Regions from separate parts of the Homo sapiens genome. Here region 1 is linked to region 2. Evidence: fine-mapped expression QTL. A gene starts in region 2. The other region holds a variant in brackets. All regions are shown on one strand. Distances are between the middles of the regions. Region 1 overlaps SPMIP3 (sperm microtubule inner protein 3). Region 2 holds the start of ADSS2 (adenylosuccinate synthase 2).

What was found. PIP is the estimated chance that this variant, and not a neighbour inherited with it, causes the effect.
Region 1: its variant is the best candidate, but not a certain one, in a credible set for the expression of ADSS2 in monocytes after R848 (Quach 2016, PIP 0.89).

Annotation. Positions count from the first base shown.
Region 1 is chr1:244,359,091-244,374,849 of GRCh38, reverse strand. SPMIP3 (sperm microtubule inner protein 3) reads right to left here. Exons shown (of 5, transcript NM_001012970.3): 2 at 10,094-10,162. The coding sequence starts at 10,149. Among named protein-coding and RNA genes, the nearest start is that of SPMIP3, 14 kb to the right of the region's middle. RefSeq lists an enhancer at 12,331-13,156. The variant C/T (reference allele first, on the strand shown) is at 7,670.
Region 2 is chr1:244,447,085-244,455,084 of GRCh38, reverse strand. It overlaps ADSS2 (adenylosuccinate synthase 2), which reads left to right and starts at 3,176. Exons shown (of 13, transcript NM_001126.5): 1 at 3,176-3,450. The coding sequence starts at 3,268. It also overlaps a transcript of CATSPERE not described here. RefSeq lists silencers at 2,787-3,276, 3,717-3,996.

The DNA of each region.
Region 1 (15,759 bases), 84 kb after region 2:
AAGGTGGGTGGATCACTTGGGGTCAGGAGTTCGAGACCAACCTGGCCAACATGGTGAAACCCCATCTCTACTAAAAATACAAAAAAAAAGCTGGACGTGGTGGCACATGCCTGTAATCCCAGCTACTGGGAAGGCTGCGCCAGGAGAATTGCTTTAACTCGGGAGGCAGAAGTTGCAGTGAGCTGAGATTGTGCCACTGCACTCCAGCCTGGGCAACAGTGCAAGACCCTGTCTCAAAAAAAAAAAAAAAAAAAAAAAAAAAGAGAAATGTGGGAATCCGTAAACGGAGGGCTCTGTCTGAAAAAAGTACATAAAAATAAAAATAATAAAAGAAATGTGGGAATTGGTAAATGGGAGCTCATTATACTGGTTTTTTCTACTTTTGATGTTTACAAAATTTCATCTTTTTTTTAACTGTAACAAATAAGTCTGTAAAGACTAATCGTGAAGCAGCACTGTGATGTCAAAGCACAAGGCGCTTGCAAGCCTGGGAGGGGGACTCGAGCCCTGTCTAGAGGCTGGATTTTGAGGAGTTTTGGGAGCATCATTGAGCTAACATGTGGGGACTGGGAGGGAGCACTTCTGTGGGGTGAACGTAAGAAGAGGTGGGACAAGGGTGGGTGGTACAAGTGGAATACAACGGGGCTGAGGGAGGCCAGGCTGGAGGGCAATGGTGCTCAGGTTTTATGCTTTAAAATACATCTCATTTTATTTTATTGTATTTATTTATTTATTTTGAGACGGAGTCTCACTCTGTCGCCCAGGCTGGAGTGCAGTGGCCCAATCTCAGCTCACTGCAACCTCCGCCTCCTGAGTTCAAGTGATTCTCCTGCCTCAGCCTCCCGAGTAGCTGGAATTACAGGTGCCTGCCACCACACCGGGCTAATTTTTGTATTTTTAGAAGAGATGGGTTTCACCATGGTGGCTAGGATGGTCTCAAACTCCTGGCCTCAAGTGATCCGCCCACCTTGGCCTCCCAAAGTGCTGGGATTACAGGCATGAGCCACTGCACCCGGCCAGAAATATGTCTCATTTTATAGTACATTGCTTTTCCTTTTATATTATAGTTATAAGACTGTAATGAGATAGGTTGGTGTAAAAGTAATTGCGGTTTTTGCTATGACTTTACTTTCAATGGCAAAAACTGCAATTACTTTTGCACCAACCTAATATTTTTAAATTATATGTGGTTGGTTTATATTATTTACAGATTTTATTTCAGAAGAATAGCAGAGATATTACAAAATATCTATTATTAAAAAGGGGGTATTGTGTCTGAAAGTTTGAGAACTACTGATGGAGGTGATAGGAATCTTTGTGAGGTTTGCTGTTGTTTGTTTTGTTTGCTTTTAGAGATGGAGTCTCACTGTTGCCCAGGCTATAGTGCAGTGTGATCATAGCTCACTGTAGCCTCTAACTCCTGGGATCCAGAGATCCTCCTGTTTCAGCTTCCTAAGTAGCTGGGAGGGACTACAGGCATGTACCATATGCCTGGCATGCATATATATATATATATAATTTTTTTTTGTAGTTTCACTATGTTGCCCAGGCTACTTTGTGAGATGTTTAACAAGGTTCATGACATGGTAGAGAAAGATCTTTTTTGATGGCAATGTGGAAAACCATTTTTTTTAAAAGACAGGGTCTCATTATGTTGCCCAGCCTGGTCTGGAACTCCTGGGCTCAAGTGATTCTCCCGCCTTGACCTCCCGAAGTGCTGGGATTGCAGGTGCGAGCCGCTGCACCCAGCCAGAAAACAAATTTGAAGACCATGTGACTAAAAGCAGAAAGACTGCTTAGGAAGTGATTGTAGTGCTTTATGTGGGACATGACGAAGCTCTGATATGATGGAAATGTGGATGGAGAGGATAGGGCTGATTGAGGATATTTTAGGAGATAGGATGGAGGGTAAAAGACAGGGAAGTGTCCAAGACAAAGCTGCATCTTCAGGCATTGGAAAGAATCCTGCCTTTCCCCAAGAGAGGGAACACAATAAATGGCCATCATTGGGAAGGTGACTTTATTGAGTTTGTGATGCCTGGACATGTGGGGTCTTTCGGGATGTCCCACAGATTCTGAGCAGTCAGTAGATGCCATAAAAATTCAAAGTCAGGAGGCTGGGCTCGCGCCTGTAATCCCAGCACTTTGGGAGGCCAAGGCGGGCGGATCGCAAGGTCAGGAGTTCGAGACCATCCTGGCTAACGCGGTGAAACCCAGTCTCTACTAAAAATACAAAAAATTAGCCAGGTGTGGTGGCGGGCACCTGTAGTCCCAGCTATTTGGGAGGCTGGGGCAGGAGAATGGTGTGAACCTGGAAGGTGGGGCTTGCAGTGAGCTGAGATCGTGCCACTGCACTCCAGCCTGGGGGACAGAGTGAGACTCCATCTCAAAAAAAAAAAAAAAAATTCAGAGTCAGTAGAAAGTAGCACATCATTTTGCATAACGTATCTCACTAAATATGTGTTAGATAATGGATGAAAACTGAAACTATGCCTTCAGTTCGACTCAACCAACATTTATTGAATGCACACAAAACACCCTGCACTATGCTAGGCTCTGCAGATACAAAGCTGACTAAGAAGCAGCGCTTGTCCTCAAAAAGCTCTTCACATGCTGAAATAGTGATCTGAATAAAGGGTCCATAGGACACAGAAGAGGGAGGAGTATCTAGATCTAGGACTCGGATAAGCAAAGGGGTTGGGGAAGAGATTCCAAGCAAAGGGAATTATAGGGGCCAAGACATGGACAGAATTAGGTTCTGAGTGGAGTGTATGAGGGCTAGAGTGGGCCTGACTGTCTAGCATGAAAGGCAAGCACTGAGCAGGGCGAGTTCTGTCTCTGTCTGTGCAAAGACGACCTCTGGGAGCTCTGATTTGCAGAAAAACCACAGGCTGTCTGGGCCTGCCCAGTGGCTGGGATAATATGACTGAGCCCTGGATGGTAAATAACAATGGGGTATTAAGTCATAAGAAGAGAGAGGAACTGGCACAATAAAGGGAACAAATGACATTTCTGAATGCACAGGGGTGGGACACGTAGCTTTCTTAGGCACCTATCCATTTTCTGAAGCACCACCTTGGAATATTACCCCAGGGCCACATTACAGTTTAAGAACCCACCTAAAGGATGCTGGTTTCTACAGTTGCTGGGCTGTGGGCGGTGGGCTGGGTTTTGACCATGGCGTGCATACAAACAAACACCTGCTGAATACAGGTGAGTAAACTCAGCGCTGCTCCTTAGAAGCAGTCAGTAAAAGCTGATTTGAGGATAAAGAATCCCAGCACCAGCACCAAGTAATCCTCCCTGCCACCGCCCCTTGGCAGTGTCTCTTGGCAGGTTTTGGGAGGAGTGAAAAGAAAATGGGAAGGTGTGTGTAAGGAGATGGGTGTGGAGAGAGGGATGGCTGGGTGGAGAAGAGAGTTTTGACCTCCTAAGGGGAAATGTCTAGCCAGGCCAGAGGCTGTGCATTACCCGGCCTCAGTGAATGATTGTGAAAGCACGTGCGGACTCTTCAGACTTGGCTGTGGAGGCCAGCCCAGCTCAGGGCTCTGCTCAGAGTGATTCTGTTGAACCCGGGTTTTAACCAGCTGTAGAAAGCCCTTTCCTTCTCACTGGGCAGGTGCAGGCACCGTGCGTGATTTTGAGTCCCTGATGGCTTGGCTTTTTGAGGTGATGTATTCAGTCCACATGAGAGCAAACCTGTTCCCTGGGAGGGTGGCTGTAAATGGAGTGGGATCTGGGCTTAGCCACAGTCAAAATTCAATATCTATAGGAGAGGCCAGAGGTGTCGGTCCCTCCAGAGCCTGGCCCCACAGCCCCAGGTAGCCTGTGTTCCTGTGACCACGCTCTTCTCTGTTACGGCCCTGCTGGGGCTCATCCTCTACAGAGCATTTTTACAGAAATGATCTCACTTAATCCTCACAGTCACCTTGCAAGGTAAACATGATTAACTCTCTGCTTTATAAGAATAGCCCAAGTCTCAGAAGGGTTAAGTGGACTTTTTAAGTAGTAAAGTCCACTTAAACAAGTAAATGCCAGCGCCGTGTATCAAACCCAGTTCTCCAAACTCCATGTCGCTATTCTGCCACCCGAGGGTATGTGTGATGATTTGTTTTAATAAGAATTCAGTGCTATTTTCATACAAACTCTGTGATTCTCTCATTTTGGGGCAGACAGCAAATAGACATTGTACACTAAAAAATAGGAAAAGCCATAAAGACACAGCAGTGTTAGCTGGAAGATGCTTTTAACTCAACGAAAAGCACTCACTGCAAGCTCTGCTGTGCCTCCAGTGGGCTAGGCACTAGGGATACAGTGATGACAATGTTGTCTTTCCACTCAAGAGTTCATAATCTGGTCAGGAAAGCCACGTTTAGGCAACTATCTAATCACAGACGATGTGGTGAGTGCTACGCCTGATAAGAAACTGAGGCTCAGGGGAAGTAAATAACTTAGCTAAGGACATGAGCTAGTAAGTCCAGAAGACAGAACTAAAGGAAGGACTAGGAAGCCTCCAGACCTGTGCCCTCATCTCCCAGGCTCTGCCGGCTCCACAAGAATCTCCTCAAGGGAGTGGGGAGCCTCAGTTTCCTCATCAGTAAAATGGGAATGATACTGTCTTCTCCTTTAATGATTGCATGAGAGTAAACGAGACATTTGTACTTGGTGGCTAACATCTCCCAAGGTGTTGGTATTGATACAGGAGATGGAAATTATTTAGGCAGATGGAAAGGGCAACAGAGTCCTCGGCGGAATTTCCCTTTTAACAAAAAGCAGCCCCAAAGTCATTTATTTTCTAACAAAGAGTAGCCTGTAAAATCATGCTGCAGACATGAATAAGCAAGCTGGAAACTTGTGTGGGTGAATGCTGGCAGCTGTGCCCATAGAAAAGGGCTACCTGAGGGCCAGCATGTTCAACATGGAGGCGCCATCTTCCCCTTTCTCTGTCACCACGTGTATAGTACAAACAAAAACAGGCAACTGAACGTGACCCGGCTAGGCAGAGAACCCATCTACATAATAAAAGATTAGGGTGGGGCGGCCAGCTTCTTCACGTGCCATGCAAACAGCACACCTAGTCCTAACCAGTTCTTCCCACATTATGCAAACACCACACCTAGTCCTAACCAGTTCTTCTCACGTTATGCAAATGGCACACCTGGTCCAACCAATCTTTCGTGCCCTATGTAAATCAGACACCACCTCCTCAAGCTCGGTTATAAAACCTGCACTTCACCAGGGACCAGAAGACCCACTGCGACTCCCTCTCTCTGTAAGAGAGAGATTTTCTCTTTCTTTAGCCTATTAAACCTCCGCTCTTAACCTCACTCCTTGTGTGTTCACGTCCTTGATTTCTTTGGCGTGTGGCAATGAACCACGGGTTGTACCCCAGAGAAATGACGCTGCTCCAATATCATCCCACGCAGGATGGGCTGACCACACAGTTGCCTCTGGATCTTCAGAGACTGTTTCGATCAAAGTTTTAAAAGTCTATTTAAATCACACACAAATTCTGTATCTTCGATCTTCTACAACACACTGAATTTAATCCACTTAAAGTGATCTTTTCAGGAGTATCCTGGGTTCCACAAACCAATGCCACACCCAGCCCTTCTCTGAGTGACAGGCCTCCAGCCTGTAGCCAGGGGATGGCACCAGTAAACAGTTGCATATAATATGATTTTTTTTTTTGAGACGGAGTCTGGCTCTGTCGCCAGGCTGGAGTGCAGTGGTGCAATCTTGGCTCACTGCCACCTCTGCCTTCCCAGGTTCAAGCAATTCTCCTGCCTCAGCCTCCCGAGAGGCTGGGACTACAGGTGTGTGCCATCACGCCCTGCTAATTTTTTGTATTTTTAGTAGAGACGGGGTTTTACCATGTTGGCCAGGATGGTCTCAATCTTTTGACCTCATGATCCGCCTGCCTCGCCTGCCATAGTGCTGGGATCACTGGCGTCAGCCACCGCACCCGGCCAATATGATGATGAATACAAGAATTTTATGTGGCCACTACTAAGTGTGAACCATTTAATATTTACTTTTATTTAGTGTCCCAAAACCTCAGTTTTCTGTAGCGTAGCTCTGAGGCTTGGCCATTTAAGGATGAATTGGATACATGCTTGTGCAGAACCACACAAGGGCAGGCTCAGGTGCCATCAGTCACCAGGGGTACACACCACACATAAACGATTGGATAACTTTGCTCACTCATTCATTTCAATATTTTCAACAACCGTGCCTACAGGGCCTACCAGGAATGGTAATCTGCAAGGCAGAGGTCATGATAGTGAGTTGCAGAGAAAGGGAAGTAAGCCCTGCCTGGAGGGCTAACCTGGAGATGTGGCAAAATGCAGTGACCACAAGCACAGACGTGAGTTTAAGTCCCATGTCCGCCAGTCAGTAGCTGTGGGATCTGGGGCAGTCATTTAACCACACCGTGCCTTGGTTTCCTCATATGAAACTCACAGTAGTGAAGGTTAAAGGAGTTCAGATGCACCTAGAACAGTGCTTGGCACAGAGTAAGAGCTTCAGAAGTGTTTACCATTATTATTCCAGGGGGTGAGACAGGCAGGATATAAAGAAACAGATAAAGTAGGCCAGGTGCAGTGGCTCAAGCCTGTAATCCCAGCACTTTGGGAGGCCAAGTTGAGTGGATCATTTGAGGTCAGGAGTTCGAGACCAGCCTGGCCAACATGGTGAAACCTTGTCTCTACTAAAAATAAAAAATTAGCCAGGTGTGGTGGTGGGCGCCTGTAGTCCCAGCACTCGAGAGGCTGAGGCATGAAAATCACTTGAACTCAGGAGGCAGAAGTTGCAGTGAACCAAGATCATACCACTGCACTCCAGCCTGGGTGACAGCGCAAGACTTTGTCTCAAAAAAACAAAAACAAAACAAAACAAAACAAAAAACCAAAAACCTTTCCTTCCTGAAACCCGGATGAGGAGGAAGCAGGGGAGAGAGGAATGGAGTTGGCTCCAGTATTTCCTGATTGTCTCCCCACAGCGTTTGCTCTTTCTGTGTGTGTTTGAGATCTGTTTTGTTCACTGAGAGGCCTATTTAACTGTGGTCTTATCTGGGGAAAATGGAAACAAACCTCCATTGGCCACTCCTGCCTAGTGCTCTGTGGTGTCTGGACCTGGCCGGGAGTCCGGGGGTTTGGGTGGAACTGAGCACAGCAGGCCCTGGGGCCCCTGGAGGCCTAAGGCTGGGCTGTCTTCTGCTCTCTGGGGCTTGTCCTCCGAGCCGCACGTGGGTTGGGGGGCACACTGACGGCTCCGGCTCTTCCTGCACCTGAACTAGTCTTGTTGCCCCCACCCTCCGCCCATAGTGCGCACCGTGAGGCAGCTCTGTGTGCCTCTCCTGACCTGTGGGTCCAATCAGCAAGTCCGTGCATTCCCCCTCCAGGCTGGATCTCCCATGGGACGGCTTCTCCAGCCCACGGCCACCCCTTGGTCCAGCTCACCATTGCCTCCCCCTGCTCTCTGCAATAACCCCCACTCTTGTCCTCAGACAATCTGTTCTCAGAGTGAGCTTCATAAAAGTAAATCGGATCAGGGCCCTCCATTGCATAAAACCCTTCAACCCATTGCATGTATAATAGCATAAAACCCAGACTCACTATTGTAGGCCACAAAGCCCTCCGGGAACTTCTCCTGCCTCTACCGTCCCAAC[C/T]TTCTCCCAGCTCCAGCCCCTGTGTCATCATGTCATGGCTTCTTTCATGAATCAGGGATTTTGGACCTGCACTTCCTCCTCCCTAGACCGCACCCTTCTCCCACCCCCTGCCCCTATCACCCAGCATCATGCTCGGCTGACAACTGCTGAGAGAGCTGTTCCCTGAACACCCTGGCTAGAGAAGGTATTCTCCTTCTGCCTACCTCTCCACCTGATTATTCTCCCTCACACCCTTTTTCATTTCCTTTATCACAACTTCCAATTATTCTATCTGTTTAGTTTTTCTTTCTTTCTTTTTTTTGAGACAGAGTCTCATTCTGTTGCCCACACTGGAGTGCAGTAGTGCGATCTCGGCTCATCGCAACCTCTGCCTCCTGGGTTCAAGCGATTCTCCTGCCTCAGCTTCCCGAGTAGCTGGGATTCCAGGTGTGTGCCACCACGCCTGGCTAATTTTTGTATTTTTAGTAGAGACAGGGTTTCACCATGTTGGCCAGGCTGGTCTCGAACTCCTGACCTCAAGTGATCCACCCGCCTTGGCCTCCCAAAGTGCTGGGATTACAGGCACGAGCCACTGCATCAGGTCTTAAAAGAAAATTCTTAAGATGTAGCCAGGAAGGACACATCCATCCATTCACTCCTTCTGTAGTTTCTGGAAGAAGGACTTCTCTTTTGTTGACCAAACATGGCTAAAATAACTCAATATTAAAATAAACATGAGGCTGGGTGTTGTGGCTCACACCCATAATCCCACACTTTGTGATACCAAGTGGGAGGACTGCTTGAGGCCAGGAGTTCCAGACAGTCTGGGCAACATAGTGAGACCTGGTCTCTACAAAAAATTTAAAAATTAGCCAGGCAGCTTGTAGCCCTAGCTACTCAGGAGACTAAGGCAGCAGGAAGATCAGTTGAGCCCAGGAGTTTGAAGTTGGACTGAGCTATGATCCAGCCACTTCACTCCAGCCTGGGCAACAGAGCCAGACTTTGTCTCTAATAAATAAATAAAAATAAAATAAACTAAACACGAGGCTTGCTCAAAGCCACAAAGCCAACGGGGCTACAGGAGGCTGACCCCCATGTCATGGTGTGAGGTTGCTGTCACAAATTTATAGCTACTACACTGCTGCAGACCCGTCGAGGTGGTGAAGGGGGAGTGGGGTTAGGATTTACGGACTGTCATCTGATACCAAATTTAGCACAACAAGACAGATCTAGGGCTTGTTATTCTTGTGCCATAGAGGACCTTGAAGAAAGAGCGAAACAGCTCCTTAGTTTCCATCTGTGCCGTCAGCTCTCATCAGAGGAAGCACAGGAGCAGTTTGTTTTCCCACAAGCAGAGTAAAATGGTCCAATCCAAAATGTGGGCTTGGATTGCTCAGACTTCTCACTAAAGCTCTTCCCAAGCAAAAACCAATATCCTTCTGGTCTTTTGGGAATTTGGAGTTGCCTGTTTGCTTGGATTCTGCAGTGAGTGTGAGGCTTCTTTTTCTTACAACTTTCCCTAAACCCAATGTGGAGGCTAGAGCAACTCTATGTTGGATGCTAATTCACCATGTTGGCTTCTGATTAACCCCTTGTATTAGCCCATTTTCATACTGCTATGAAGAAATACCCGAGACTGGGTATTTTATAAAGAAAAAGAGGTTTAATGGACTCACAGTTCCACACGGCTGGGGAGGCCTCACAATCATGGCAGAAGGCAAAGGAGGAGGAAAGGCATGTCTTCCATGGCGGCAGGCAAGAGAGTTTGTTCAGGGGAACTCCCACTTATAAAACCATCAGATCTCGTGAGACTTATTCACTGTCAGGAGAACAGCATGGGAAAACCCCACCCCATGGTTCAGTTACCTCCCACCAGGTCCCTCCCACGACACGTAGGAATTATGGGAGCTACAATTCAAGATGAGATTTGAGTGGAGACACAACCAAATCATATCACCCCAGGCCTCTAAGATTTCCAGTTTCTCTATAGTTCCTGGTGTCAGAGCAGGTACTTACTGTAAGTTCTGCCCTTCGGCCAAACAACATTGGTGTTATCGTACTTCAATTGTCCCATATATCCCTTCTGTATCACTCTTCCCCTATGGTATCTAAATCCTGGGTCTCAGGGGTAATGGCGCAGACATCCACCATCTCATCTCACTGCTACCCGAGACACATATATGGCTTCTGTTCGTAAGTCCCTGTTAAATATTTCTTTGTAAGAAACTGGATTTGTCAGCCTCTTTCTTCGGCGTCTCAGCTTCCTCTGACTTTTGCCGGTAGGTTTGCACAGACCTGCTCATCAGGAAATATCCAAAGAGCTTCCCTAGAACTCCCTGGCAGTAGTCTCTGGACCACTGAGCAGCAGGATGTGCAATTCTAACTCCCCAGGCACCTGGCTGCCTGGCTTCAGTCCCGGAGGCTGTGCATCTGGAAGAACTATACCTTGGCGGGATCACTGGGCGACGCTCAATAAATTCTCGTAGTCGGATGGCAGTCATGATGGATGGGAATCTGAAAAAAAATTATGGCATAAAGGATTATATTGCCAGTTTATACATAATTCCATGGGTGAGATATCTAGTACCACAAAGTCCATCTTGAAAGAAATCAGTAAAAATATTTGACATGGTAGAAGGACTATGCATATAGGCTATTTAGGGAAGGAAATACAAGATTAGAAAGGAGCAAAAAGAAATGGCAAGCATAAGGCAAATACACACAGATGTGCTTTTCTTTAAAAACCAAAAGTAAAAAAAAATTAAATAAGTATAAATCAATAAGAAAATAAAAAGCAGGCCGGGTGTGGTGGCTCACGCCTGTAATCCCAGCACTTTGGGAGGCTGAGGTGGGAGGATCACGAGGTCAGGAGATCGAGACCATCCTGGCTAACACGGTGAAACCCCGTCTTTACTAAAAATACAAAAAAAGTAGCCGGGCCTGGTGGCGGGCGCCTGTAGTACCAGCTGTTTGGGAGGCTGAGCCAGGAGAATGGTGTGAACCCGGGAGGCGGAGCTTGCAGTGAGCCAGGATCGTGCCACTGCGCTCCAGCCAGGGCCATAGAGTGAGACTCCGTCAAAAAAAAAAAGAAAAAGCAAAAGCAAAGGTACTGTGCTAATGTTAGCTGGGCATAGTCTCCTGTCTCACTTCATTGTTTTTTTGGTTTTGTTCTGATCAGTTGTGACCCAAGATCCTGTCTCATTTCTTAGTGGGCCTTCCTACCTCACAAGCTTGCAAGCTAAGCACGACATTTCCCAGAGTGCCTCACAACAAGAATCCCGGCTAGGAGTGAGCGCCCTTGCATCGGCTGTACTTGCTTGAGATTTGGAAGGTGGACATTAGGCAGAGGCTGCTGCCTTGATCTTCTCTACTGGCAAGCAAGGTTGTGGAGCATATGGCACTTTTCCAGCGTCTCATCTCCAGCTTTGGGGCATTCAAGAAGCAATTGTTGCGAAGGCAGTGGCTGAAGTCTGTGTCCCAGGGTTCAAATTCCAGCTTCCTAGGTGGCAGAGACAGTGGCGTTGGGAGTAGGTTCTTGAACTCAATACTCCTGGAAGCAGCTTCCTGATCTGGACTGACATAGCTTTACCAGTGATGGGTCAGTTTTGTGGAGATGTTCTAGATGCCTCCTGGGGGCCCCACCCAGAGCCTGTTCTTCCAGCCCTTCTGAGGATTTTTTGTAAGCCATTCATTCTCTATGTTAGCCCCCTTTCTGTTCCCCACTGACCCTAGACTAAACATATAGGTTGTTTCTAGTCTAAAATTTCATATCACATCTGATTGTTTGTTTGTTTTTCACAGGGCCTCACTCTGTCGCCTAGGTTGGAGTGCAGTGGCACAATCGTGGCTCACTGCCACCTCCACCTCCCGGGTTCAAACAGTTCTCCTGCCTCAGCCTCCTGAGTAGCTGGGATTATAGGCACCTGCCACCATGCCCAGCTAATTTTTGTGTTTTTAGTAGAGATGGGGTTTCACACCATGTTGGCCAGGCTGGTCTTGTACTCCTGACCTCAGGTGATCCACCCACCTCGGCCTCTCAAAGTGCTGGGATTACAGGCATGAGCCACCGTACCTGGCCCACATCTGATTATTTACTGGAGAATATGGCTTGCCACAAGCAAACTACTACATTTAAATAATCACATAAAGTGGTGAGACCCCAACTCTATGAAAAATACAACAACAAAAAAAAAAGCCTGGTGTGGAGGTGCATGCCTGTGGTCCCAGCTACTCAGGAGGCTGAGGCGGGAGGATCGCTTGAGCCCAGGAAGCGGAGGTTGCAGTGAGCCAAGATCACACCACTGCACTCCAGCCTGGGTGACAGTGAGACCCTGTCTCAAAAAAAAAAAAAAAAAAAAGTTCACAGGGAAAAGAGTAAACAATGAGAAGGAAAACTGAGTGGCTGGGGGACAAAGGCATACTTTTTACCATTTACCTTAGGAATTTTGCACTCTGCATATCTATTATGTATGCATAGACAGCTGGGCCTATGGTTTGCACAAACATGGCTAGTGGTGTAGCAGGAGAACATCGGACTGAGACCCATGTGACCTGCGGCAGGTCATTTTCCCACTCTCCACATTGATTACAATAGCTCTCTGGAGGGTTGAATGAGGCAAAGATGTGTGCGAGAGTGTTCTGTGTCCTTGAAAACATCTTTGAGAAAGGAGAAATGTGAGTTCCTATTGACAATCATGGATTATGTACCAGGTAACATGTATTAACTCCTATTAGCCTCCCAGCAACCCTACAGAGTTTTACTGCTATTTACTCCCAAGAAAATTGAGGTACTAAGAAGTTAAGTAACTTGTATGAGGTTACCAAGGAACCAGGGCTGGAACCCTCTGGCTGCAGAAATATTTATTTTAACTCTTAGCTCTATCAAAACAATCACAAGGCACCCAGACCATCAGCCAAAACAAAACTAGGACTATTCAGTAACCAGGAGACAGAAAGGACTGGAAAAAAAGAGTGTGTGATGTCTCCTCCTCTTCCCTTTCATAGACAACGGTTAACTCATTGCCTGCCGGCTGGCCAGCTGCTTTATTTCACCTGAGTGTGTTTTTCAAAGCAACTTGAAGATTTTAAACAGCATTACACTATAATGGAATAGTTGGCTATCCAACAGAGCCTAATCATTATATAATGTACTTTTACTGCTGTGATTATTTAAAAAAGAGAGAGAGAGAGAAAGAGAAAGAAGGAAGAAACAATGAGAGAGAAAATCTGAGTAAACACAGCTGAGCTCTTGGTTAATCTGCTAACCCGAACTCCGAAAGCTTCGTGACTGGAGTTTACTTCAGTGGAAGTGACAGGCTGGACAGAAGAATGCCAGGTATTCAGGGCTTTTGAGCTCCTAACAAAGACAGCCCCCACTATCCCTTTGAAGACAGAGTGAGTGCTCAGTGCCTAGAAATTCTGAATCAGTCTTGTAAGGGAATAAATCGGTCATGGGTTGCCATGCTTTTTTAACAAAAATTTTTATTTTTAATTATTATAGATATATAAGAGATGTATGTATTTATGGGGTACATGTGCCATTTTTATATAAGCATACAATGAGTAATGATCCAATCAGGGTAATGCGGGTGTCCATCACCTCAAGAATTTATCATTTCTTTGTGTTAGGAACATTCTAATTCCACTTTTTAAGTTATTTTGAAATGTAGAACAGGCCGGGCGCGGTGGCTCACGCCTGTAATCCCAGCACTTTGAGAGGCCGAGGTGGGCAGATGACTTGAGGTCTGGAGTTTGAGACCAGCCTGGCCAACATGATGAAACCCCGTCTTTACTAAAAATACAACAATTAACTAGGCATGGTGGCGCATGCCTGTAATCCCAGCTGCTTGGGAGGCTGAGGCAGGAGAATCCTTGAACCCAGGAGGCAGAGGTTGCAGTGAGCCGAGATCGAGCCACAGCACTCCAGCCTGGGCAACAGAGGAAGACTCCATCTCAAAAAAAAAAAAGAAAGAAAGAAAAAAAAGAAATGTACGATAAATTATAGACAATAGTCACCCATTGTGCTACCAAACACTGATCTTTTTTCTTCTAACTGTATTTTTGTTCCATTAACCATCCACCGTTTATTCCCTCTTCCCCACTCCCCTTCCCAGCCTCTGCTAACCATCATTCTACTCTCCGTCTCCGCAAGTTCAATTCCTTTTCTTCGACAAGTTCAATTTTTTTTCAAGCTCCCACATATTAGTGAGAACAAGCAATATTTGTCTTTCTGTGCCTGGCTTATTTTACTTGATATAATGTCCTCCAGTTCCCTTCATGTTGTTGTAAATGACAGGATTTAATGCTTTTTTTTTTTTTGAGACGGAGTCTCACTCTGTCACCCAGGCTGGAGTGCAATGGCGCAATCTCAGCTCACTGCAATCTCCGCCTCCCAGGGTGAAGCAATTCTCCTGCCTTAGCCTCCTGAGTAGCTGGGACTACAGGCACCTGCCATCATGCCCAGCTAATTTTTGTATTTTTGTAGAGATGGGGTTTCACCATGTTGACCAGGCTGGTCTTGGAACTCCTGACCTCAGGTGATCCTCCCGCCTCAGCCTTCCAAAGTGCTGGGATTACTGGCATGAGTCACTCTGCCCGACCGATTTCATGCTTTTTTATGGCTGAATAATATTCCATGCATGCATGTGTGTGTGTGTGTGTGTGTGTGTGTGTGTGTGTGTGTGTGTGTGTGTATATCACGTTTTCTTTATCCATTCATCCATTGATAGACACTTGGGTTGATTCCATAGCTTGGCTATTGTGAATAGTGCTGCAATAAACACAGGACTGCAGATATCTCTTTGATATAACAATTTCCTTTCTCTTCGATATATACCCAGCAGTGAGACTGCTGGATCATATGGTAGTTCTATTTTTAGTTTTTTGAGGAACCTTCATACTGTTCTCCATAGTGGCTGTACTAATTTACATTCCTACCAACAGCGTATGAAGGTTCCCCTTTCTCCACATCCTCAGTAGCATTCATCATTGCCTGGCTTTTGGATAAAAGACATTTGAACTGAGGTGAGATGATATCCCATTGCAGGATTCATTTGCATTTTTCTGATGATTAGTAATGTTGAACTTTTTTTTTTTAGATGGCGTCTCGCTCTGTTGCCAGGCTGGAGTGCAGTGGTGCGATGTTGGCTCACTGCAACCTCCGCCTCCCGGGTTCCAGTGATTCTCCTGCCTCAGCCTCCCGAGTAGCTGGGACTACAGGCACGCACCACCACGCCCAGCTAATTTTTTGTATTTTTAGTAGAGACAGGTTTTGCCATGTTGGCCAGGATGGTCTCAATCTCTTCACCTTGTGATCCGCCAGCCTCGGCCTCCCAAAGTGCTGGGATTACAGGCGTGAGCCACCGCCCCGGGCCATGTTGAACTTTTTTTTTATACACCTGTTAGCCATTTATGTGTCTTCTTTTGAGAAATGTCTATTCAGATTTTTTGCTTATTTTAATTAATTAATTAATTTTTTTGAGGTGGAGTTTTGCTCTCATTGCCCAGGCTGGAGTGCAATGTCGTGATCTCGGCTCACTGTAGCCTCCGCCTCCTGTGTTTAAGTGATTCTCCTGCCTCAGCCTCCCGAGTAGTTGGGATTACAGGCGCCCGCCACCACACCCAGCTAATTTTTTGTATTTTTAGTAGAGGCGGGGTTTCATCATGTTGGCTAGGCTGGTCTCGAACTTTTGCCCTCAGGTGATCTGCCCACCTCTGCCTCCCAAAGTGGGATTACAAGCATGAGCCACTGCTCCTGGCCCTTTGGCCTATTTTAAAATCAGATTTTCTTTTCCCTATTGATTGTTTAAGCTTTTTATATATTCTGGTTATTAATCCCTTGTCAGATGGGTAGTTTGCAAATATTTTCTCCCATTCTGTGGGTTGCCTCTGGTTGCCACGCGATGCAAGCATTTTTAGAGAAATGCATTAGCAATGGTGTTTGAGTCCAAGTCTATGCTCCTACAATAATCAGAGGACCTTGTCTGGGAGTGGTTACCGATCTTTAGAGAATTTCCTCTACCTTATGTGAGGGATACCAAATCACTTTTTTTTTTTTTTTTTGCCATTAATCATAATCTCTTGGACACATAAGGAAGTGTAGTTTGCAATAA
Region 2 (8,000 bases):
AGCCAGTTTCAAGCTTGCAAAGGCTTTTAACTGCTCAAGAAAATTCTTAGGGCTAACCTAAAAATCCCCAAATTCCTGTCTTCTAGATGGTGGAAACCAAGAGAAAGTATCTCCACATGGTCACAAAGTTAAGCTCTTCAGGACACAAAACAAGACAGAGAAATTTCATACAGTATTGGCTTCAGGGACCTGTAGCAAAGTTTGTAACTGACCAGCCTGCCAAGCCGGCTTGAAAAGCAGGCTTATAGGGGTCCTAAACCCACGTTCTATCCTGTGACACCCATCTATCCACTACAGAACACAGAAAGACAAATTCTTAGCACAAAACTACACCAGATTTGCTACAGCCTAAGACTAGTCTCACAAATCCTTTTTTCCATTTATCAAACCCTTGCAGAGGAGGTAAACAGTTTACTATTTACTGAGAAAGAGAGAGAGAGACCACAAACCGGTCCGGTAAGAATTTCATACCCTCTGTGCCGGCATACCAGATTTCCGGGTTCCCTTTCTCTGCAGTTTCCAGAAGAATGGAGTGGCTTTTGATGACCCTGCTTGCTTGTGCTATAGCTGTGGGGTTCAAGCCACTTTACAAGAGAAAATCACCCTTTACTGTTTTATGGAAACATAGACGAGATTCTTAATTTGCAAGATGCTGCCCAGCGGGCTGCATGGGGAACCGAATTAACATTTTCCATCCCAGCAAAACACACATAACAAAACACACATTAGCCACCTCGTTCAGCTCCCAATATCAGCCTGGCAAAGCTCAAAAACTTTTTCTCTTTGGTCCCTGTTGTCTTTGATCCACTCCAGGTGGGGAGGGATGACCTCCGAACGGTAATTCACAATGGGGTCTCTGGGCAAGACGAAGAGCAGATAGTCACCCCGAGACAGGCCTGTTGAGCCTTCTGTAGGGCTCATCAAATGTGACCAGACAAATAAGGAGGGTTTTGAGTTAGGTCTGCTGGACTTCCATCAGCAACCTCTTCTGAGATCCCTTCCACATATACAAACGCACACAAAGACGAGAGGACAGAAGGCGTTCCCAATCAGATCCCTAACCAAGAACTCCGGGAGTATCCCTTCCAAACTATCCTCCTATTCTCCTTCTGAGAAACCTCCTTGAAATCTTCCTGATTCAGGAGAAGTCTCCCAAACCTGGACTCTTCCTACTAGTTAGAAAGAGCCAAATGAGACCCCCCCAGGAGCCGAACAGACACCCTGCAATGGGGCTACAGACACCTCACCATAGGGCTACAGAACCAGTTGGGAGAAAGGAGGCGTTGGCAGCACCTAGGATACTCACCAATCCAGACACCCTGCCCTGCAATGGGGCTACAGACAGACACCCTGTGATAGGGTTACAGTTAAGGGACGTCTCCCCGGGGCTATTTCTCCATTGCAATTAAATCCATGCACACTGGGTTGGCAGCACCCCACCAGTAGAGAGAGTACCAGAGTCAGCCCCCAGTCCAAGAGAACTGGGTGGCCGCTTGGGCAGGCTTCTGGATCCATTGCTGGAGGGGGGCCACTGAACCACGAGTAGGTAGCCACAAAGGCAATGCCAGACAAGCCCCCAAATTTGTAACCGCCCAAGGGGTTCACCTTGTCCACTGCCTAGACAGAGCCAATTCATCAAGACAGGCAAATGGCAATAGAGAAAGAGTAATTCATGTAGAGCTGGCTGTGCAGGAAACCAGAGTTTTATTATTACTCAAATCAGTCTCCCATAAATGATTTTAAAAAATTGAATGGAAATGACTAGTAAGGTGTGCTTATTCAGTATCTACTATCTGCCCAACACTACCTCGGGCATTTGACTAGAAAGAAATAGATGGCATTCTTGTTTCCAAAATGTTTGTGATCTTGTAATAAGGCCAAGATAGACAACAATTATCACATAGTATTATAATTGTTTACTAATCAATAGACCAAATAATTTGAATCCTTGAGGGCTGAATTGTATCTTTATTTCTCCTATGTTATCAGTGCCCAGGACACTTAGTTAGTTAATAGCAGGTTCTCAATGTTCCTGACTTAACTCATTGACTAGAAATAAAATACTAAAGTGTACTCTAGGGACCATTAGTGAACATACAGTATGTACAGGCGATTTGGGAGACGGTACATATAATGTGATTCCATTCCCACTTTTTTTCGAAGCACCTTTTATCAGAATTAAACATCATAGTTAATTTGTGTTGGTGTCGAAAGGGCATTAGATGAACAGTAGGTATACACCAGAATCTAGTTACAAATGTAACTGAGAGACAGTGGAATCTACAGGAAGGACATGGGCTCTGGACTTAGATTATCGAAGTACCAATTCAAGCCTCACTAGGGCAAGTTACCCAGCTTTTAAATCCTGTAAAATAAGGATAATAGAGGATCACCTACCTTATATGGTTGTGGGGATTAAAAAATAAAGAAGTGCATGACGGTATCTGCATATATGTACTATATGCGACATAGGTAATCCACTCCTCCTCTCTGAGCCTTTGTTACTACTATGTAAAATGAGGATTAGGACTTTATTTGATCTATTGATTTCAGGTCTCATGTCCTTTATCTTATTGCCTTACTTTTGAATTTTGTCTTTTTTGATCCCTGTCCCCATCTCTGTTACTTCCGGACTTTTAATTTCCAATTCTACACTTACACGTTCCGATTTTATGCTGTTTGTACTGCGAAATTCCACAGTTTGTATTTTGTACACATTCATTCCTTAATAAAGACAAATCCAGACAAACCTGCAGATGGCAGACACAGTGGCCCCAGAATACACCGCCGCAGCCCAGAGCGTTGCATGCTGGGATTTGTAGTCCGACGCTCCACACGCGCTTCCGCGCCTCTCCAGTTTGAAAGCGAGAGGTAGAGCGGGTAGGCGGGGTGCTGAAGGAGAAGCGCTCTCGAAGCCCCGCCCCTGACCTTTTCCGCTCGCGAGGTTTGCACGGGAGTGGCGCGCCAGGCCGCGGAAGGGGCGTGGCCTCGGTCCGGGGTGGCGGCCGTTGCCGCCACCAGGGCCTCTTCCTGCGGGCGGTGCTGCCGAGGCCGGCCTGCGCGGGGCAGTCATGGTACCCCCTTGAGCGGGCTGTGGCGGAGAGCGGGGCGGGGACTGGCTGGAGGGTGGCGGCCCGGCGGGGCGGGGGCGGGGCCGGCCTCTGGCTCCTTCTTCCTCTGCATGTGGCTGGCGGCCGCAGAGCAGTTCAGTTCGCTCACTCCTCGCCGGCCGCCTCTCCTTCGGGCTCTCCTCGCGTCACTGGAGCCATGGCGTTCGCCGAGACCTACCCGGCGGCATCCTCCCTGCCCAACGGCGATTGCGGCCGCCCCAGGGCGCGGCCCGGAGGAAACCGGGTGACGGTGGTGCTCGGTGCGCAGTGGGGCGACGAAGGCAAAGGGAAGGTGGTGGACCTGCTGGCGCAGGACGCCGACATCGTGTGCCGCTGCCAGGTGAGGCGACGGGGCCTCTCATGGGAAGCCGGGCCCGGGAGCTCGGGCTGCCTGGCTCCTGGTGCCCGGGAACTCGGACCCAGAACCCGGATCCACTGGCCAAAATGAGGTGTCACCTTGAGGCTCTCTCCTCCTGTCCTGAGCTGCGGCTACGTGGAGAAATGGCGGGAGGTCGGGGACCCCTGACCTGGAGCGTCGGGTGAAACTTGGGGTGGCCCTGGAGGAAGAGGTGGGCTGGCGGGGAGCCTTTGAGAGATGCGCGATGCCTGGCAGTTGCAGTTTTGCGTCTGGCGAGTGGTGCTCAGCGCCGGGACTGAGGCCGGGGTGGAGGTGGGATGCGGTCCGAGTTTGAGGAGCTACCGCCCGAGGCCTGCTCCCAACTCTTCCGACTGCGGGCGGAGACCCGGCGCGACGGCAGAACCCCCCATCACCGCCCCCCCGCCCCGCCCAGGGCGGCGGAGTGGGAGTGGATTGTTTCGAAACGTCCTGAAATCAGACTCACCGATCCCCCATCTGCAGGACCGTGGCATGCAGTGCTTTGCTTCCTCTGGTCCACTTTGTTGACATCCAAACCCACCCACCTCTGGGCTTTGGACTGTTGTTTTAGGGCCCTGAGTTTCTTGTTTTTGTTTTTGTTTTTACAGTGTGCTCCATACATGAAAGTTAAGGAGAAATTACTTTTACTAGTTGGTCCCAGAGGAAGGAATCCCTTCTCTGTTCAAAAAAAGTGAGGGAAGTAAATACATGGATGTCAAATTGAGTATTTGGAAATAAATATTTGCATTGTTAAGGTGACATCGAAAGTGAACTTTCGGAAAACGAGGTGGTAATGTACTTCTAACGGGAGACACGTGGTTTTCAGTGTAACCTTTCTTCCTATTTGTCGTTTCCTTTGACGCAGCATACAGGGTAAGGCCTTTGTAAAGGCTCTCAGATAACTCTCTCCAGTTTCAAAATTCTAAGCAGATGAGCAATAACCACTTTCAAAACAAAGCATAATGTAATATTTGAAGTTAACTGCTATCTGTTTAGGTTGCAAGAATATTTGTTTTTGAACATGCATGGCATGATATGATGGTGCCATGCTGTATATGTTCTAGTAAGTTATAGGCCCCCTTGAATACCATTTTGAGCATGCAGAAACAATGAAATCACAGGTATGTTAAAAAGCTAAATGCAAATACTGCAAATATTCTCTGATTTACCTTGTTTCGTTTTGTTTTGTTTTCATTTAGAAATCCACCCTGCCCATTCTGAAATAGCTGTTGCACTAATTGCCTCTTAGGAAACTGTCACTACCACCTCTCCCTCCTTCCCTTCCAGCCTATTATTTCTCCACCCCTCTGGCAACACACTTTGTACCTTAGCAATCTTCAGGGTGTTGCCATTAAATTCCTGCCCCGCACTTTCTTAGGAAATACTCCAGAAATCCAGCCTTTACCTACCTTTTGTCTTACATTCAGATCTGGTCATGCTGTGGGGAAGACGTATCCGAATACCGAGCTTTCTTGCTGTCGACAGCGGGAGAGAGGCTGAGGCCTGTGTGTCTCCTTCACTGACATCTTGACATCTCGTTAATATGGAAATAGCTCAGGTTGAGCTACACTATGGGTTGTAAGAAGGTTTGGAGAACACAACCATTATGGTATTTATTCTAAAGGATCCTCAATTTTAATATTCTATGGAGAAATATTAGAAGTAGTTTGTAGCTTGGAGAAGGTGTTACTAATGTTACCGAGAAAGTAGTCTTGAAGTCATGGACCAACCTGATCTGATGCCCTTGGAAAGGCTAGAGAAGTGATTGAGAAGGAACTAAGTTTGGCTTTAAAATGTTAGCTGAAGATAGTGGAGAAACAAATGAGGGGCCTTGTTGGGCAGACTTCCCTCACCTGTGTATTTTTGACTTAACTACCTTCCTTATAGAATCCTTATGTTCTTTTAGTGCTTTTTAAAAGTGTATCATTAGGATTCTTTATTAGTCTTGTTAGCAAAAAATAGATGAGTAATGAATAGATTTAAGCATTATCTCTTTTGTGATTTACCTTGGTAACTTTGTATTATTTGGTTAGCCCTAGTAAGCTGGCATCTACTTAATGAAGTTCCCCTAGGTTATAAAATTGGAATGTTGAAGTTCTTAGTGAGTGTGTATAGAGAGCTGGAAAAAATCAACAGTAAGACATTGTGAGCTTGGATTGCCTTGTTTGATGTCTTAAGTTTTGTGTGTTAGTGAAAATATGTCCTTTGTTAGAGTTTAATATATTCTGCCATATTTATGTCATGAGTTCAAATTTTATTCAGTACTGTTTCTCCAGAAGTGATGTACACATAATGTATCCGTATTTCACCAGTAGACTCATAAGGACTTTCTCCCAACATAAAATATAGTTTTAAAAAGAAAAACTGGCATTGCATTTAATGATAAATTTTAATGTATAAAATGCCTTTTTGGAAACAATAGATGCAAACCTAGTGGCGTTTTCACTCTTAACAGCGCTTAAGGCCTGTGTTGTTCAGATTCAGGATTTATGGGGAGTTATTTATAACTTGGTAGGTTCCCCAGATCCATAAATATGTAGGACTTGCATCAAAGGACAACCACTACTGCTGCCTTAATTTTAAATCAATATTTATTTTAAGAAGAAGAGAGAAGAATTAAATAGAGGCCCAACCCTGGGTACAGGTCATTCATCTAGTAAACATTGAGTATCTGCAGGGGATCACTTAGCCTGGGAGTCAAAAATCTGAAAAAGGCAGGGATTGTGCCCACAAGGAGCTCACAATCTGGGGGACAACTGCTGTGTAAGCAAAAGTGTTGAGAAGGTCGGGATGGAGAAAGGTACTAGTCTAATACGTTTCTCAAGAGGTTAAAGTATGGGACCAAGAAAGTCCCTTTCTGGCATCACAAAAGGAAGCCTAATACTGTTTTTTCCCCAGTTCTCTCAAAGTAAAATACTGTGCTTTGTTTTCTGTATTTTGCTGAGTAGAAGCTACAGAAACTTCTTAACTATAGTAGTTTATACCAGGCTTTAAGCAAAGGCTTACTTATTTATTGTTCTTGAGGAAAGTAACTTCGGTGGTCTTGGTTATAATGACACACATGAAGTTGCCTGTGATCGGGAAAGGCTAGAGCAGTGTTCCGTGTGTATTCTCTCCAAGGCTTCAAAGTCAATAAAAAGAGAAAATACTAAAGTTAGTCATAAGGGAAAGCACACCCCATCACTTGATATATGTTTATAAAAGCTTGCTATAAAAATAAACATACTGAAAAAATATTACTATTTTCTAGCTAGATACAAGTATCTGCTGAAGATCTGAAACCACTATTAGTGTTAAAGAAGCATAAAAGACATATCAGCAGCAAACTAAAACTTTCTCCTTGAAATAGAAAAGGTGAAAGATAATTTAAAAGAAAATAACGTTAGTATTATTTAATGCCTTGACCTTGTACAGCTAAAATGATCTGCCAGACTACTTCCCATAATTTTAAGGATAGTAGGTAATTAGCATTTAAGGTAAGCCATTCTTCCAGGTTTATAACAATTGCTATTTCCATTTTTCTGATTCTTTTTATATCATTTATAGCATTTCCCTAGTATATAAGTATTTACCAATGTCTGTTATACTATACTTGGTTAAATCTTGTTCTGTTTGGTTACTGTGCTTTCTCTACTATAATGTAAATTTTCTCAAAAGGGAGACTTCTTCCTTTTCTTATTCTGTAGCACCTAATACTATATGAAGCAGAAGGGAAATACTCAACCAATGTATTCTGGGTGGCAAGATCACCCCTGGAAATTTATTTGAAATAAATAATAGTAACCCTTTCTTGTAATTGTTTTAACATCTCTCTGGACAATTTAATTGACTGGTGGCATACATTTAAGGCGGAATTCCTAGCATTCCTTGGATTAACATTTGTTATTTAGTTTTTCAGCTGGAATTTTTTACATTGTACCATTCAAAGTCTTTGTTTATATTAAAATCTTATCTCTTGTTTTTAGGAGAAAATAGGTAACTGATATTTATATCTTTTTCATGTATCTCCTCAACATATTTCGACTGAATACCATGTGGGGTTCTAGTAACTAGTTATTCCCCGCTGAGGACAGTAAATCTCAATGTTCGGTCAATGAGGATGTCCTATTGCAGTTAGTAAATATAGTATCCTGTCAGCTCTACTTTTGAGGCATGAGTTTTTAAACGTGTATGAGACCATCTCAGTGGTGTCTGATCAAAATTATTCTGTTTCTTTAACTTTGGTGGGAATGGATGGGTTTGTTGGATGTTTACAAGTATCTCTAAGAAAAACTGTTGCCTAGAGCAAATCTAGAATGAACCAATAAATTGATATTTACTTAATAGCTTTCTTTCTGTAACTGGATACGAATCCAGCTATCTTATCTCTCAGGGACTGTGTCAGATGTTGACACCAAAGATTAGTGTGGATGAGCTACATATTGATAAATTAAAATTGGTGACTATTGTAATACTTTTAGCAACAGAAACATCAACATTCAGTATTGCCTGCTGAAAGCAATGAAAAGAACAAT